Linked DNA regions of Homo sapiens: region 1 is linked to region 2. The links come from fine-mapping of genetic effects on gene expression. A gene starts in region 2. The other region holds a variant in brackets. All regions are shown on one strand. Distances are between the middles of the regions. Region 1 has its middle 39 kb from the start of ADAMTS15. Region 2 holds the start of ADAMTS15 (ADAM metallopeptidase with thrombospondin type 1 motif 15).

What was found. PIP is the estimated chance that this variant, and not a neighbour inherited with it, causes the effect.
Region 1: its variant is the best candidate, but not a certain one, in a credible set for the expression of ADAMTS15 in lung (TOPMed, PIP 0.75).

The regions. Positions count from the first base shown.
Region 1 is chr11:130,484,922-130,490,293 of GRCh38, reverse strand. No RefSeq gene overlaps it. Among named protein-coding and RNA genes, the nearest start is that of ADAMTS15, 39 kb to the right of the region's middle. The variant G/C (reference allele first, on the strand shown) is at 2,825.
Region 2 is chr11:130,445,871-130,451,242 of GRCh38, reverse strand. ADAMTS15 (ADAM metallopeptidase with thrombospondin type 1 motif 15) reads right to left here and starts at 2,598. Exons shown (of 8, transcript NM_139055.4): 1 at 1,313-2,598. The coding sequence starts at 2,269.

The DNA.
Region 1 (5,372 bases), 39 kb before region 2:
GCCTAGGCGTACACAGGGTTAGGATCATCAATATCACTGTCTTCCACCCCCACAGCTCATCCTGCAGCACGTCTTCAGGGACAGTAACAGGCATGGAGCTGTCATCTCCTATGACAGCAATGCCTTCTTCTGGATACCTCCTGAGGGACCTGCTTGCCTGACACTGATTTACAGTAAACACTTTTTTATAAGTAGAAGGAGTACACTCTAATGATAATAAGTATAGTATAGTAAATTCGTAAGCCAGCAACATCGTCATTACTTATGATTATTAAGCACTATTTACCGTACATTATTGTATGTGCTAGACTTTTATACGACTGGCAGTGCGGTAGGTTTGTTTACACCAGCATCATCACAAACACATGAGTAATGCTTTGCACTGCAACGTTCGGAGGGCTACGTCACAAGACAATAGGAACTTGTCAGCTCCTTTACAATCTTATGGGACCACCATTGAACATGTGGACTGTCATTCGCTGAAAACTTGTTACGCGGTGCATGACTGTAGTTGTCACCTAAGAACAAATATACTCCAGGCTTCGCTTGTCCTAAAGCCTTTGATGGTGGGGGCAGGCAGAAGGGATGATTAAAACAGTAAAAATGTCCAACTGGGTGAATAGAGAAAATCTTCCTCCCTCTGTCTTGATTTCATCCTCTGTAAAATGGGGACAATAGTAAGAATAAAAGATCCCTATGTCTATCCTTCCCTCTCCTAGAATCAGTGTAAATGTCAACCATCTTCACAGTCTGTCCTCATTCCTTACCTTCAAATAACTCCTTCCTCCCCTCAACTTCAATAAATTTTATCTAAAACATTCCCACACTTTTTATCTTGTGTTTTAATTAGATGAGCACTCTGATATTCCCTGTTAAACTGTAAATTCCCTAAAGGCAAAAGTGTGTGTTTTATCTTTATTGGTCCACAGTGCCTAGTATATTACAAATAAAGTGAGAAGTGAGTATTTGTTGAAAGAATAAATCAAGAATAAATTAAGACGAGATAGGAGGAAGACTTTTAAAAGTATAAAGCATGGATTATAAAGCGTCCATGCACTGTGTAAACTAAGGTCTGATTCTCATCACTGATGGTGTGATCTTGGGCTAGTACTCTAACCCCTTTGGGTTTCTCACGAACAAGGCTCTATGGACATGGATCACAGGGAATGTGCAGTTGTAGTCTATTTGCTTTTGCTTTTAATTTCCCACTCTGAAGCTTAAAGAAATGAAAGTGAAGGGTGGGTACAATAAAACCTCCATGCCCATAAAGATAACAGGGAGAAATTAGAAATTATAAAGGAAATGGGGGAGATAAGTTAACTGGAATCGCAGGTGAAACAGTCACTCAGTTGAGCCCTAAATTTAGCACTAAGCTTCCTGGTTGCCAAGGCAAAAAGCAAAACTCGATGGTGTTCATAGTTCTTATTGTTAGAAAAAGAGATTATACCAGTTATCAAAAAACACACACCCTTCCCCGGAGCCGTCTTCCAGAAGGAATTACGGTGTCATTCCTTTAAAAAGGCCAGTGAATGTCACTTTGGGCAACATCCCCTGCTACATCACCACAGAATCAGGGAGGCTGCTGAAGAGTTTCTCATCTAGGGGAGCCCTGCTTCCGCTAGAGGGTCAGAAAGGACTGGCAGTAAAGAGCTAGGCCCCAGCCAACACCCGGCACAAAGCAGCTGCAGAAACTAGCCAGTCACGTCATTATTTAATGTTGGCTGATTAGATGTAGGAAAATGCCTGCCTAAAACAACTATTTTCAATCTGGCATGAAGCGGGGCTGTTCTGACAATACTTTGCCATTGAATTGAGGTCTTTACTAAAACAGATCACAACTCCTGAGGGCAAAGCATAGGCCATGATAAAACATAACAGCATAGTTTTACTGTTTATTGTAGCAGAGGGTCACGTGATAAATTCATCTAAAAGGTCATCAACTATCTGCAAGTTAAAAAAAGAGAGTATTACACAGGGAAGGGAGCATGATGTTGAGGAAACAACAACAGCAGGAAGTGGGCTGATGAGCGCCTGGGCCTTGGTTGTTCATTTCTCTCTGCTTTTGCATCTTTGAGTGTCATCGTAAAAATGTTTCAAAACATTTCTCATGCGGGCTCCTGAGGAAAGTGATTTGGGCCCTGTGAAGCACGAGCCAGGGGTTACTGACTGCTCATGGCTGCCAGTGAGACTCCATGAGGCCCCATGTGGCTTTCCCGAGTTCACACATAGACCTTGTCCTCCAGTCCTGGCTGAGGGCACCCAGTGACCTGTGGATTTTGAATGACCCCAGAAGCATCTCCAACAATGAGTTGATTGTTCCCATTCCAGTGGCTGGGCTTAGCTCCCTCCATGCCTGCAACGAGAAACCTTGACCCTCAGTGGAGGTGGGAGCTAGAGGGAGATCAGGGGCTCTGGCCCTCCCTGGAGTTGGGCAGGCAGAATGGGGTGCTGGCCCTAGGGACTGGTGGGTCTGGAATGGGAAGAAGGAAAGAGAAGGAGCAGGAACAGGAGGAAAGGCGGAAACCAGAGGCCTAGGGAAGCCAAGGCCTCTCGCCTGCAGACAGGCAAGTTAGCTTTGCAGAGGGAGCTGCAGACACTGTGGGATGAAGAGGTGGCCCAGCCAGAAGGAGCCTGCGGCTGCAGTCTGGGGTGGAGAAAGGGCTTCAGCGTGCTGGAGATGGAGGGTTGTGACCGGGGAGTGAGGGAGTCATGGCGCAGGGTGGGGATGAACTCTCCCCACAGAGCTAAGTTCAGAGATGCTGTCGGCTGCAGAGCCCTGAGCTTGAGTATGCTTAATTCCATAGACTGGCCCAAGAAAGGCGTA[G/C]GCCGGGATCAGAGGCTAAAAAGAGAGCGCAGATCTGACGCTGAGCCAGGCAGCCCCTGCCCCGGGGTAGCAGCCGGCTTTGCTCTTTCCTCCCTTGGAAGAAAGCAGAAAGAGAACATACTTTGATTGTCCTCAAACAAACACTGTGTTGAGTAAAGAGATAAGCCCAGCCTGGGTTGGCTCAGGCGTCCCCAGGCAAGGGAAGTCACACTTCATATTTCCAACATGAACGTCCCAGATGGGCCGGGCCTCGAACCCGGCAGAAAGCTGAGAGGCTGGGGCCTGTGCCCTGCAGGGAGAGGCCCAGCACGCGAGGGGTGATCTGCTGTGACCCGTGACCGCTGCAGCTGAGGCCCTTTTTTCTGCCAGCCGGGCCTGCGTGTCCAGAGCGTATAAGATCCAATCCAGAAAGAGCCAGGACCCCACCGAGGGGACATTGGTGGCTGATGCTCAAGGAGGTGCCGCCTCCCTAGCCAGGGGCGTTGGAAAAGTGACCTTGCTGGAGGGAACGTTGTCTTCTAAGAAGCTGCCTGAGTAAGGCAAGACGTGAGAGGCGGGAAGGGATAAGGTTTGGGAGGATCCCCTTTCCCGTGCCCATGCGCCCTGACTGCTGCTGCCTTCACCTGCACTGCACACCTGGGTGACAAGGACAACGGGCACTCGGTGCTCTACACGCCCTCTGCAAGCCTGTCAGCCAGGTACTGCTATTACCTCCCTCTACAGATAAGGAGGCCAAAGCACCAGCAGGAGCGACCGTCACTGGAGGTCAGGCATAGTTCACAGGGCCTGGAACTGGGGATTGGACCTGGATCCTTGAGCTGATTCTTGCGCCTCAACCTCTCTTCCCAGATGCCCACCGCCCCCAACCGCGCACCCCTGCAGATGGGACGCTGCCCTCGAGGCTCTCCCTCCGCTTGCTTCCCCCAATGGTGGGGTCCACCCCAGACCCGGGAGCCCCTCCCTCAGTCCCTGCTCCTCGTGGCCCTTCTTGTAATCCTTTCCCCAGACTCCTCCCACCTCCCCGCCTCTGGCACAAATCCCGCAAGTATATGTTCCTCTCTCCTCATCTCTCTCACTAAGAAAGTCAATCCCACAAGACATCCCCCAAAGGAAAGAATGAAATAAAACAGTCCCCCATGTCTAGCCCGAGCATTCTTTTTAATTTGTTGTCAAGTTGGGCTTGCCAAGTCAGTCTCTTTCGATGAAGCAGAGGACTCGGGTGCAGCCGCGGCCCACGCAGGCTCTGAGGTGCGAGCCGCCAGCAGGTGCCGTCAGGGTGGGCACGCACCGTGGACACACAGACAGGGGCCCGGCCCACGCATGAGACCAAGAGTGCAGAGCCCAGGATGGGCCAGCACCATCACTACTCATGTAGTGGCCACAGTGTCACTGACCAAGTGTCAGTGTGGGCTACCAGGGACCCACAAAGAAAACTGTCTTGCAAGACCCGGGGAAAGGGACAAGAATCTACAGGTGCCTTTCAGAAATAATCCATGCCACCGGGAAGCAAGTGCCAAAAAGAAGCCAATCTCTTGGGTGGGGACAATAACCTAAGAAGCTGTCACTTGTCTCCGTGGTGAAGCTATAAAGAAGCTCTTGGTCACCAAAAAGGAATAGTGAGGAGGAAACCTGTCAGTTTCCCACCTGGTGCTGCAGACAACACCTAGCCATGACAGGTATTCCTGTCTGCTTCTAGAGACATCTAGAATGAGCCAGTGTCTGCGTGGCTTGGTGACACTTCCCTTAAGTAATTCTTCCTATATCTGTAGTTCCTGAGCTGCCTTCCAGATTTAATTTTCCAGGTAGGTTTTATTACAAAAGAGAGGCGAATATAACAACAAAAACGTTGCTGTGTCTTGAATTCTTACTAATATCTGCTTTACAGACATTTCTTCATTAAGCAGTCGCAACAGCCCTGTGAGTTAGGGTTATTTTATAGACGAAGCTGTATCTGCCTATTGTGAAGTTATTTACAAGTAAACGTTGGTCTAACTACTTTTATTCCTCATTCCTCTCTGCACGTTTCAGGGCAGTCCCTTGCATAAACGGTAGAATCTCAATTATTTGTTCAATTAAACTGAACAAGATTTAACAACACTCTGGGATTAAGAACGCCATACTTCTTAACATAAATTGCATGTAAGAGCTTTTTTCCTTGTCTATTGCCTTTCCATGGTAATAAAAGTAGCTAATATTCATCAGTCTTACTAGGTGCCAAGCACTGTGCCAATGAATGCATTCCATTCGTTATCTGATCTATCATACAAATCTTATTATTTTCTCCATTATGAATGCAGAAACAGAGATCTAGAAAAGCTGTTCCAAAGTAGCAAAGTCAGGATCTGAGCCTGTGCTCAAATCAAGAGTCAGACAATCTGACTCCAGGTGCGTGCTCTTCATCACTAAGCTAATACCAAAAATAAAGCATAAAACAAAAGAAATTCATACGGTAAAGAAATGGAGGGAAATCACCAGAGGTCATTCCTATACCGCCACATCCCTATCACCAGCATGGCCCCCACTTTCTCAAAATTTTCACTGTTGAACA
Region 2 (5,372 bases):
GCCCCACAGGTAACCAAGGATTCCACGCCATCCCCAGAGTGCTGTGGTTATGATAATAACCAAAAAAAAGAGCATGGCACAGATTCAAGTCACAGTCCCCCAAATCAGAAGAAGAGGCTCACTTGGATGGCTCTTTTCCTCCCAGCCTCCTGTATCTGAGAAATTTCAAGAATCCAAATACTCCTCAGTGCCCAATCACTCCAACACCTGTGAATCTAAACGTTTGCAGATTTGTAGCTTCTTTGACATAGAATATCAGGAAAGGCCTTGCAAAAGGCAGGGCTGCTTCCTGGGCTGGGTCCATCTTTCTAATCCCAATACTCAGTTTCCTTCTAACTCTACAGCTGGAATCTCCAAATACTCTTGACTAAGCTCACACCACTTCCACCCCAGCAAGGGCAGAAGCTAGAGCCCTGAAGTCAAGTGTGGTCATAGGAATTTTAGTGACTTGGGAGCAGGAGCAAGCATGCCCGCTCTGCTCTGTAGTATACATCTGGGCAAACGGGTCACCCTCTGACAGCAAGGATACAGGAAAATTGGAAGAGATTTTCCCAACTCAGCTCCAAGTAAAACTCCACTTGAAACTCCAAGTGAAACAGTCTCAGCTCCAAACAGGTGCCCTAACTACACCGCCTGCTCAGAATGGTCTAGAAGCCTCTTGGACCATGCCCAGCAGAGAAGTCTGTAGGAGAAGCGGCAGTGAAGGAGGGATGCTCGCAGTACTTGAGTCTGGCCTGTCACTGCAACCCACAAAATCTCTCAATGATTCCCTCCACCCCAATCCAGGCTTTCCAGGCCCAGTACAGAGAGGGGACAACGTGTTACCCGAGAGAAATGTAGCAAGCGCTGACCTTGGATCACCTTCAGTTCTACAACCCTTGAAAGGAGACCTCAGGAGGTGTCCGAGAAGACTCAGCCGCCCATACAATAGGGGTGGGCCGTTCCCGCCCTCTCCAACACCATCCTCACGGCGTCTCCTATCGGTCTTGGACACAAACTGCAGCTCCGGGGCGGCAACTTCCTGGGTTCCGGCCCCTCGGCGCCTGATCCAGGAGGCGCTGATTGGCCGCGCCAGGCCAACACCTTCGGAAAGCGCAGGCTCTCCTCCAATGGCCCAGATGCACGTGAGCCGCCGCTCCGCGGAGCGTGGGAGAGGGCTCTCCCTGGAAACTCCACAGAGTTGGAGTCGGAAGAGATCAACGAGGTTTAAACTCGGAGGCATTGCACGATACAAAGGGGATTTGGAGCGCTAGGGGAGGTGACCCTAAAGAACGGGACTATCTGGGTGCAAAGTGACGGCAGATCAACTCACCTGCCTGGTGAAGAGGATGGCAGTGTCCCAGTACTCGGGGTGCTTGTCACTCACTTTGTTCAGCTTCTTCTGCCAGGCACAGAAGTTGCGCAGCGTCAGGGCCGCATTGCCGGTGACCTTGGGCCCGGAGTCACGATCTCTAAGAAGCAGCACCTTGACCACAACGATGTTGATGGGGTTGAGGATGCTGGGATGGCGGTAGAGTCGCGCCGCCGTTGCCAGCAGCGTCAGCAGATAATGTTCCAGGTCCGCGCCGTGGAACTTGACCATTGACTCGTCCGCGACCACCAGCGTCTCCACGTACCGCGGGATAGACACGAAACGCTTGGCGCGCCCAGACCTGCGCCGGCTACGACTCTCCCCGAAGCCCGCCCGCCGCGGCTTGTAAGGGTCCAGGGCCCGTAGGATGGCGGGGTTCCAGCCCGAGGCCACCCCGCAGCGAGAGGTGGGGTCTCCGGAAGGCCCGCCCGGAACACCCCGGCGCTGGAGAAGGTGTGCGCCCTGGCTGTTGCGCTGCGCCGCCGGCGCGCTAGCATTGGGCAGCGGGCTAATGACATACTCGGCGCCTCGGTAGCCAAAGGCTCCGCGGAGCCCCCCGCACAGGCTCACAGCAGCGAACGAGTCCGGCTCGGCGTTCACGTCCCCAGAATAGAAGCAGCGTCGCAGGTCTGAAGAGCCCCCGGTGAGCCCCTGGAGGGGGACGCCCAGATGCTCAGTGGAGAAGGCGGGAGCCAAGAACTGAGCATCCGGCGTCAGGTGTAGGTAAAAGTCCTCCTGAAATGCTGTGATCTGAAAAATGAGTCCCTGATCCCCGGAGTCCTCGGGACCCCGCCAGTAGTAGCGGCGGCCGTTAATGTCCGGGTCCAGTCGGATGGGAACGACTACCTCCCGCTCTGGCTCAGAGCCTCCAGCGGTTCGCCCGGCGAAAGCCAGGGTTAGGATGCCCAGCAGAAGCATGGCGCCGGGCAGCGCACCGCCGCGCTGTGGGAAGGGGCTGGGCCGGGCTCTCCGGCCGCTGCCGCGGTCTCCGTGCAGCCCGCACTCTGGAACCGCCAACGCTACGGGACAGCCGGCAGTTCCCAGAAAGGAGAGCCAAGGGAGGGAGACTCCTCCCAGGGCGGCGAGCGTGCACCCGGCAGCCCGCGCTTCCTACCTGTGCCTTTCCAAGCAAAGCGCGCCCTGGGAGCTTAAGTACAATCGCTGTCAAGTGCAAGGACGAAGATTTGCAGCCGAGAACTAGCGGAAGGTGCCGGGCGGCTTCTCGCAACCGCAGCCACTCGCAGCGCAGCAAGCCAGGCGCTGGGCGAGCCTATTAAAGGCCCCCTCCTCTTTGGACGGCCCAGTCAGCGCCCCTCCCCTCACTCCCCTCCCAGCCTCCCAGAGCTCGCTGCCGGAGCCTCCAGGGGCCACCGGAGAACTCGGTCCCGCCTCCAGAGCGGAGAGCCACTTGGCGGGGAGGGAGTGGCATTGAGCTGAGGCAGGAGGCGTGGGCTGGCCCGAGAAACCGGCGCTGAAGTCTCAGTTTGCGTTTTGCTCTTGGTTATGCCCCACTGTCCCGACGCCTCACTCGCTTCTGCCCCCGCGGACAGCGTTCACTCTCTGGGTCTTAGTCTTTTATCTCAGGGCAGATCAGGTCAGCAGCTAGGAATGAAGACCCTTCACTGACCCGTCCCCAGGCCCACCTCATCCCTGCTGTTGCAACATCCCTGCTGTTTCTTAATCACAGAGTCCCCTAAAAGACCCAGAATCAAGAACCACCCCCCCCCCCGCGTAAATGTCCTATTGCCAGAAGAGCAATAGGACAGGGGCATGGGAGCCCTCTGGAACCCAAGACCGCCTAGCCCCAAGGTCTGCCCTGGGCCCATGGTGTGCTGGATGGGCTGGGGCAAACTCTTCAGTTCTCAGGAATCTTGCCAGCCAGCTGTTAATCACGGACATTATTAAAAATTAAACTAAACACACTTACAATTAAACAAAGTGTATATATATATATGCACACACACACACATACATATATATACACATACATATATATATATACATACACACACACACACACACACACACATATATATATATATTTTTTTTTTTTTGAGACGGAGTTTTGCTCTTGTTGCCCAGGCTGGAGTGCAATGACGCGATCTCAGCTCACCGCAAACTCCGCCTTCCGGGTTCAAGCCATTCTCCTGTCTCAGCCTCCCAAGTAGCTGGAATTACAGGCATGCACCACCACGCCCAGCTAATTTTGTATTTTTAGTAAAGACAGGGTTTCTCCATGTTGGTCAGGCTGGTCTCGAACTACCGACCTCGGGTGATCCTCCTACCTTGGTTTCCTACCTCCTACCTTGGTCTCCTGAGTAACTGCGACCACAGACACACGACACCACGCTAGGCCAATTTGTGTGTGTGTGTGTGTGTGTGTGTGTGTGTGTGTGTGTGTGTGTGTATTTTTGGTAGAGACTGGGTTTCGCCGTGTTGCCCAGGCTGGTCTTGAACTCCTGAGCTCAAGCAATCCACCCACCTCGGCCTCCCGGTGCGGGGACTACAGGCGTGAGCCACCATGCCTAGCCACAAAGTACATTTTTAAAAGGTAATAAATACTCAAAACCCGTCGCTTCCTAAGTATTTGATAATTACTTATGGTCTTGAGCCACCAGAACCGCCAACCCTCTGAGACAGCAACTCCCAGAAAAGAGTGCAGAATGGGGTGGAAATGTGAGGGAAATATTAAATGGTGTGCTGCCCTGCATCTCCCCAGTCAGGGACATCACAATGGCTTGAAATAGGTCCTGGTAGAAGTATTTACACCACCTGAATAAGCAAATCAGAGCTGGGGTTGGGGGCAGGAAGATGAGCCCTTGTACACAGCTACCTGCCTGGCAGGGATGTGGAGATCAGGTTCTGGGGCTGCAGTTACAAGAGGAAGAGGCTGTCTTCCAGCAAACAGTAGAAAAATCGGGCCAGGCTTCCTCCATGAAATTATCTCATTTGACCCTTGACCAAACCCTGGACTGGGGACTGGCATAGGAGGCCGAGTGAGTATCAGCTGGAGAAGATGCAATCGCACCTTATGTTCCCATCTAGTTTGGAGAACAGCCCAAGGAGTTTTTCAGGCTCTAGACCTCAAGATCCTTCTTACCTCTCCGCAGAATCAACTTCTTTCTCTGACAAGGGAGAAAGGCAAGGAGAGGAGGGAGGCTTTGCTACTCTCTCCTGATACCTAGAAAATCTTTCTGGAGCCAAAGGGCTCTGAGTTGAGTTTGCAAGAGGGGAGGACAAAGAAGGGAGTGTGTGATGATTTTAAGCATAAAGGGGATGATGTGGGAGAATTTTGGAATTTTTTTTAGGGAAGTGGCTGTTCAAGGGAAGAACTCTATTGTCCAAGGAGAGAAAAGGCTGGGACTGGTCCATCAGTGAAGAGCACTTTTTGCCCATTATCTTCTCCCCATAAAGGATCCACTCTTGGAAGCGCCCCCTGGGGCCTTGGAACATGAAGATGGCTCAGATGCCCATAATTCCAGTGAGGCCTCTCCTTGATTGGGACACAAGGAGCTGAAATTCATTATGTGAATGAGTGAGAGATGGGTGTTTATACTCTGCAAATGAAAGAGAGTGTATGGGTATGGGAGGACTGTGTGTGAGACAGGGAGTTCAAGCTTACAAAGGCCCTGTGTGTTTGAGCGTTCAAAGAGGGCCTATAATTAAAGAGAAACGCAGACAACCAACAGCAATGATAAGTCATTTATTTGGGGCAAGCAATTGTTTTACTACACCCGGCAGTTTTAAAGGTGGATTGCAAGGTTTTCAACGGCACTTTACTTTCATTCTGACCCATGGGTTTTGGCAAGGGCTGCAGCATGTCAGTCAAGATGGCAGGGACCTGAGACAGGAAGTCCCTCCCACTTAGTGCTCCCCCTGCCCCAATCACAGCCCAGCTATTCTCACCCCTGAGCACAGAAACTGGCCATGTGGATTTGCTCAAAGGGATTAGCATGTATTGCAGGCTTAGTATGTGCTAAACATTGCACCAAGAGTTATATGTGCATTCTCGTATTTAATG